Linked DNA regions of Homo sapiens. The protein of the gene in region 1 purifies or fractionates together with the protein of each later gene. This does not show direct contact. Each region holds a gene or a part of one and is shown in the gene's direction. Other genes may lie near its edges.

Evidence for each region.
Region 2: the proteins of PBLD (region 1) and MARCHF2 purify together in Homo sapiens (affinity purification with western blotting, with the first as the bait; one study listed by BioGRID). This does not show direct contact.

Annotation. Positions count from the first base shown.
Region 1 is NC_000010.11:68,322,929-68,326,428, reverse strand, and holds part of PBLD (phenazine biosynthesis-like domain-containing protein), read left to right. Parts: intron 1-3,500.
Region 2 is NC_000019.10:8,423,031-8,427,049, forward strand, and holds part of MARCHF2 (E3 ubiquitin-protein ligase MARCHF2), read left to right. Parts: intron 1-3,578; coding exon 3,579-3,774; intron 3,775-4,019. UniProt on the Homo sapiens protein: E3 ubiquitin-protein ligase that may mediate ubiquitination of TFRC and CD86, and promote their subsequent endocytosis and sorting to lysosomes via multivesicular bodies.

The DNA of each region.
Region 1 (3,500 bases):
TATTAATAAATGGAAATTGATTTGAGAGCATTACTGAATTCCTAGTAGGTCAGTATATGTTTCCATCCATCCATAAAAAATACAAGTACAGCTTGGCACAGTGGCTCATGCCTGTAATCCCAGCACTCTAGTAGGCCGAAGCTGGCGGATCACTTGAGATCAGGAGTTCAAGATCAGCCTGGGCAACATGGTGAGACCACGTCTCTACTAAAAATACAAAAATAATTAACCGGGCATGATACTGCATGCCTGTAATCCCAGCTACTCAGGAGGCGGAGGTTGCAATGAGCCGAAATTGCGCCACTGTGCTCCAACCTCGGCAACAGAGTAAGACTCCATCTCAAAAAACAAAAACAAAACAAAACAGAAAAATCAAGTACATTCTATAATGTTGGATGAGCTAAAAAAAAAATGCACGTACATAAAGTGAACCTGTCCCTGACTTTCAAGAGCATACAGATACATTCCATTACATAGATAAATTACATTAAACTGTAGCAAGTGACAAAATAGGGTAAGCACAGAGTGTTTGGGGAGCACAGAATCTGGCCATTCACACAGTCTAGGGCTTCAGAGAAAGCTTTCTGAAGGAGACAACTCATGAGTTAAGTGTTGGAGGATAAGTAAAATTTAGTGGGGCAATGAAAAATAGGAAAAGCATTTACAGTTGAGGACGCAGTAAGATCCAAGGCATGGATGTACAAAATAACGGCAGAAGTGGAAACTCTAAGCAGGTGAAACATTGTAAAATAAGGAAGTAGGTAGGAACCAGATCTTGGAGAAGTTTGTGTGCTACCCTATGGAGCTTGGCTTTTAAGATTGATGATCAATGTAGTGCTTTTTGGGTTTTTTTGTATTGTTTTTGAGATGCAGTCTCACTGTGTTTCCCAGGCTTGAGGGCAGTGGCGTGATCTCAGCTCATTGCAATCTTTGCCTCCCAGGTTCAGGTGATTCTCCTGCCTTAGCCTCCTGAGTAGCTGGGACTACAGGCATACACCACCACGCCTGGCTAATTTTTGTATTTTTAGGTAGACACGGGGTTTCACCATGTTGGCCAGGCTGGTCTCAAACTCCTCACCTCAAGTGATCCACCTCTCTTGGCCACACAAAGTGCTGGGATTACAGGCATGAGCCGCCATTCCCGGCCAATGTAGTGGGTTTTTGTTTTGTTTTGTTGTTTTCCCTGAGACGGAGTCTTGTTTTGTCACCCAGTCTGGAGTGCAGTGGCACAGTCTCAGCTCACTGCAACTTCCGCCTCCCGGGTTCAAGCAATTCTCCTGCCTCAGCCTCCCGAGTCGCTGGGATTACAGGTGCCTGCCACCGCACCTGGCTACTTTTTGTATTTTCAGTAGAAACAGGGTTTCACCATGTTGGCCAGGCTGGTCTTGAACTCCTGACCTCGTGATCTGCCTGTCTCGGCCTCCCAAAGTTCTGGGATTACAGGTGTGAGCAACTGCACCTAGCCCAGATGTAGTGTTTTAATTAGATAGTTCTGATTAAAGTGTGGAGAGTTGGCTGGGCATGATGGCTCACGCCTGTAATCCCAGCACTTTGGGAGGCCAAGGCATGTGGATCATTTGAGGTCAGGAGTTCAAGACCAGCCTGGCCAACATGGTGAGACCCTGTCTGTACTAAAAATACAAAAATTAGCCGGGCAATAGTGGCACATGCCTGTAATCTCAGCTACTTGGGAGGCTGAGGCAGGAGAATCGTTTGAGCCTGTGAGGCAGAGGTTGTGGTGAGCTGAGATTGTGCCACTGCACTCCAGTCTGGGCGAGTGACACCCTGTCTCTAAATAAATAAATAAATAAATAAATAAATAAAGTGTGGAGGGTAGATATTGGGAGGGTAAGAAGAGAGAAGACTAGGAGAAGGACCAGTAGAGATGATGAATACTTAAACTAGAGCAATGGTATTAGGGATAGATACAGGAGGCTCTCTTTAAGAAATATTTGGCTGGGCACAGTGGCTCACACCTGTAATCTCAGCACTTTGGGAGGCCAAGGTGGGCAGATCATGAGGTCAAGAGATCGAGACCATCCTGGCCAACATGGTGAAACCTCATCTCTACAAAAAATACAAAAATTAGCTGGGCATGGTGGCGCGCACCTGTAGTCCCAGCTACTTGAGAGGCTGAGGCAGGAGAATCGCTTGAACCCAGGAGGCAGAGGTTGCAGTGAGCCCAGATCGTGCCACTGCACTCCAGCCTGGCAACAGAGCGAGGCATGGTGGCGCACACCTGTGGTCCCAGCTCTATCTCAAAAAAAAAAAAGAAAATTAGGAGCTATTTATCAGCAGGGTTTAGTGCTTGAGTAGAAAGGCTGTGCATGGGTGAGTGAAAAGAAGTCAAGGATGAATTATTTTTGGCTTAGGGTTGGATGCTGAGAATTTTAACTGACATAGGAAATACAGGAATATCGGGTGTGTTGATTTTGAGATGCCATGTACTGTCCGAGTGAATGTGTCTAGTAGGAAATTAATCTGGATAGGAATGTAGATTTGGCATTCATTGACATATATTTTGCTTTTATACTTCAAAATAAGTTTTTTGGGATGGCCTCAGGCTAAGTAAATTTGCTGTGGAATCTGTTGTAAAAACTAGAATGAGAATTTATTATTTACAGTGAAGAATATAACTATCAAACAAATGGAATGCAAATTATCCCAGTGTTTTTGTGGGGGATACTTCTGAATATTCTACATAAAAGGAAGTATACTCTATTAGTTATTATTGCTGTGTAACAAATTGCTCCAAAACTTAACAGCTTAAAACAACAAACTTTTATTATTTCATAATTTCTGTGGATCAGAAATCTTGGGGCAGCTTAGCTGGATGCTTCTAGCCCAGGATCTCTTTTTCTTCTTTTTTGAGATGGAATCTCACTCTGTCCCTCAGGCTGGAGTGCAGTGGTGTGCTCAGCTCACTGCAACCTCTGCCTCATGGGTTCAAGCTGTTCTCCAGCCTCAGCCTCCTGAGTAGCTGGGATTACAGGTATGCTCCACGAAGCCTGGCTAATTTTTGTATTTTTAGTAGAGACGGGTTTTCCCAATGTTGGCCCACCTGGTCTTGAACCCCTGACTTCATGTGATCCACCCACTTTGGCCTCCCAAAGTGCTGGGATTACAGGCGTGAGCCACCATGCCCAGCCTAGGGTCTCTTATAAGGGTATAATTAAAATGTCAGCTGGAGCTTCAGTTATCTCAAGGGTCAACTAGGGTAGGATCTGCTTAAAAGCTCACTCCCATGGCTATTGGCAGGCCTCAGATCATTAAAAAAAATAAAATTTTAGATTTTTGAATAGTTGTAGATTTATAGAAAAGTTGCAAAGATATTACATAGAATTCCTATATATGGCTCACTCAGTTTCCTCTGTTAACATCTTATATTTGGCTGGCACAGTGGCTCACACCTGTAATCCCAGCACTTTGGGAGGCCAAAGAAGGAGGATTGCTTGAGACCAGGAGTTTGAGACCAGACTGAGCAACATAGTGAGATCTCA
Region 2 (4,019 bases), on another chromosome or scaffold:
TTCCTCTCTTCTCTGAATTTGTTTTTTTGTTTTGTTTTGTTGTTTTGGAGACAGAGTCTCACTTTGTCACCCATGCTGGAGTGCAGTGGCATGATCTCAGCTCACTGCAACCTCTGCCTCCTGGGTTCAAGCGATTCTCCTGCCTCAGCCTCCCAAGTAGCTAGGATTACAGCCCCCCCGCCCCGACCATGCCCGACTAATTTTTGTATTTTTTTAGTAGAGACGGGGTTTCACCATGTTAGTCAGGCTGGTCTCCTGACCTCAGATGACCCACCCACCTCGGCCTCCCAAAGTGTTGGGATTACAGGCATGAACCACTGTGCCTGGCCTCTTCTCTGAATTTGCTCTCCCAAACTTTTTCACAGTTTCCCAGAACAAGCTCCAAACTGACATGATTCTTCCTCAAGATTCTCGTCACTTCTGTTTCCCTGGGTTGGTTTCCGGACAAAGGGTTCCTTTTTTGTTAACTTTGTTTGTGTGTGTACTTGGGGGAGGGTGGGATCGGGGTATGGGTTCAGAAAGGAGGCAGGCAGGCATGCCCTTTTGCCATTGCAGGAGGAAATAGCAGTCCAGGGACAGGACTGTTGAGAAAGCAGCCATGAGCAGCCTGTTGGGCTCTTTTTAAAGCCGCCCAACTCCACCCCGCAGCATGAGAATCTGAGAAAAGGATAGAAAACAGTCATTTCCAGGCAGGCGTGGTCGCTCATGCCTGTAGTCCCAGCACTTTGGAAGTCCAAGGCTGAAGGATCGCTTGAGCCCAGAAGCTCAAGACCAGCCTGGTCAACATAGTGAGACCCCCCTCTCTAGAAAAAGTTAAAAAATATTAGCTGTGTGGCGTGGTGCCACCTGTAGTCCCAGCTACTCGGGAGACTGAGGCAGGAGGATCGCTCGAGCTAGGGAGTCCGAGGCTGCAGTGAGCTGTGATTGCACCACTGCACTCCAGCCTGGGTGACTCAAAAAAAAAAAAAAAAAAGAAAGAAAAAAAAATACAGTCTCTCTGAGAGGAAATTGGCGTTGTCTGGAAAATAGCTCTTCTTTGTGTGACCTCACAGTCTGCCTTCTGGCCAGAAATGTTTGGGAAACAGTGACTCATGGCTGTTTGGCCTCTGGGCCACGCCCCCTGCCTCCTGAGCTGCCCTGGGAAGGACCCGGCATCCCCAGAGACTGGGCCAGGGCTGGAGACTTTTCCGAGGCAGCTTTCTGCAGATGCTTTTTATTTCTATTTCCCCCTCACAAGGGCAGAGGAGCAGGTGAGCACTTCTCTCTGGATGCACAGGTTTCTCAGGTAGCACGGGCTTCAGGTGTGATTAGATCCAGGGGCCCGCAAAGATGTCCTTAAGAATCTACCTTTCCCAGGCCTTGCGCAGTGGCTCACGCCTGTAATCCCAGCACTTTGGGAGGCCGAGGCGGGTGGATCACGAGGTCAGGAGATCGAGACCATCCTGGCTAACACGGTGAAACCCCGTCTCTACAAAAAATACAAAAAATTAGCCGGGCGTGGTGGCCGGCGCCTGTAGTCCTAGCTACTCTGGAGGCTGAGGCAGGAGAATGGCATGAACCTGGGAGGTCGAGCTTGCAGTGAGCCGAGATCGCGCCACTGCACTCCAGCCTGGGTGACAGAGCAACACTGTCTCAAAAAAAAGAAAAAAAAAAATCTACCTTTCCCTGTCTCTTGGCTCTGCTCTCCTCTGTGCTGGCATCATTCACAGGCTCCACACAGACTAGGCAGCTGCAGGAGCTCCAGGCTTCTGTCAGCCTTGTGGCCGACAGTTCTGGAGTTTACGGGGAAACAAAGAATTTTAGGAATAGATTATCGGTGACTCTGATGGTATCATACAAGCCTGAGTTGGTTGCATGAGCAGGGGTGCGTGCTGTTCTATTTTCTTTTTCTTTTTTTCAAATGGTCTCACTCTGTTGTCCAAGCTGGAGTATAGTGGTACAATTATGGGTCATTGGAGCTTTGAACTCCTGGGCACATGTGATCCTCCTGCCTCAGCCTCCCAAGTAGCTGGGACCACAACATGTACCACCACGCCAAGATAAGTCTTTAAAAAAAATTTTGGGACCGGGCGTGGTGGCTCACGCCTGTAATCCCAGCACTTTGGGAGGCTGAGGCGGGCAGATCACGAGGTCAGGAGATTGAGACCATCCTGGCTAACACGGTGAAACCCCGTCTCTACTAAAATACAGAAAAAAAAAAAATTAGCTGGGCATGGTGGCATGTGCCTGTAGTCTCAGCTACTCGGGAGGCTGAGGCTACTCGGGAGGCTGAGGCAGGATAATCGCTTGAACCTGGGAGGTGGAGGTTGCAGTGAGCTGATATCACACCACTGCACTCCAGCCTGATGACAGAGCGAGACTCCATCTCAAAAAAAAAAAAAGAAAATTTTTTTTTTATAGAGATGAGATCTCACTAGGTTGCCCACACTGGCCTTGAACTCCTCGGCTCAAGTGATCCTCCCGCTTCAGCCTTCCAAAGTGCTAGAATTACAAGCATGAGCTACTGCTCCCGGCCTGGTGTTCTGACTGGTCCAGTATGAGGCCTGAGGTCATGAGGAGTGTTGTCTGCTCTGCCCTAGTCCTTGAGGATTTTTTTTTTTTTTTGAGACGGAGCCTCACTCTGTCACCCAGGCTGGAGTGCAGTGGTGTAATCTCGGCTCACTGTAACCTCTGCCTTCCAGGCTGAAGTGATACTCCTGCCTCAGCCTCCCCAGTAGCTGGGATTACAGGCACCTACCACCACGCCCAGCTAATTTTTGTATTTTTAGTAGAGACGGGGTTTCACCATGTTGGCCAGGCTGGTCTTGAAATCCTGACCTCATGATCCTCCTGCCTTGGCCTCCCAAAGTACTGGGATTACAGGAATGAGCCACCTCACCCAGCTGGTCTTTGAGGATTAAGAGTCGAGGATTGGGGGCCGGGTGCGGTGGCTCACGCCTGTAATCCCAGCACTTTGGGAGCCTGAGGCAGGCGGATCACAATATCAGGAGATCGAGACCATCCTGGCTAACACGGTGAAACCCCGTCTCTACTAAAAATACAAAAACACAATTAGCCGGGCGTGGTGGCAGGTGCCTGTAGTTCCAGCTACTCGGGAGGCTGAGGTGGGAGAATGGCGTGAACCCGGGAGGCGGAGCTTGCAGTGAGCCGAGATCGCACCACTGCACTCCAGCCTGGGTGACAGAGCGAGACTCTGTCTCAAAAAAAAAAAAAAAAAAAAAAAGAGTTGAGGGTGGGGAAGTTGTGCAGGACAATCAGGGTGGGTATTTTAGGGAAATTTGGAGAGGACATGGGGGCGGGTATAACAGATGCCCATCTTGGGTCTGAGAGGGTGCTGCAGGGTCCCTGGGAAGGGAACACATCACTCCACCTGTGGGAGTCTGGGAAGGCTTCGCAAGGTTACCTTCCCTGCATCTCCTTCCCAAAGGGAAGGACATTTAGAGCTGGGCATTGAAGGATGAGTAGGAGTTCACTAAGTGGCAGCATGGGGTAAGGGTGAGCTTGTGATCCAGTGGGTAGTGAAGCAGGTATAGACAGAAAGCCCAATCATTGCTCATGGGTCCTATCTCTGTGTCCAGTGATGGTCCTTTCTGCCGGATCTGCCATGAGGGAGCGAACGGGGAGTGCTTGCTGTCCCCGTGTGGCTGCACCGGCACGCTGGGTGCCGTGCATAAGAGCTGTCTGGAGAAGTGGCTTTCCTCATCTAACACCAGCTACTGCGAGCTGTGCCACACGGAGTTTGCAGTGGAGAAACGGCCTCGACCCCTCACAGAGGTACCCTTAAGAGTCTGAGACTGCGGTGGGCAGTGGGGAGAGGGCAGACATGGGGGCCAAAGGCAGGAGCTGCCCCGGGCAATCTGGTGGTCCTCCTAGGGCAGAACTCCCTACCGCCCCTGTCCACCAGGTGGGTCTGCTGATGGTGTGTCAGAAACCAGGCCTAGGGTTTAAGAGCTCCCAGACCCATTAACCTCTCCCTGTTTTCATTCAGTCTTTCTTCTTCTTCTTTCTTCTTCTTCCTT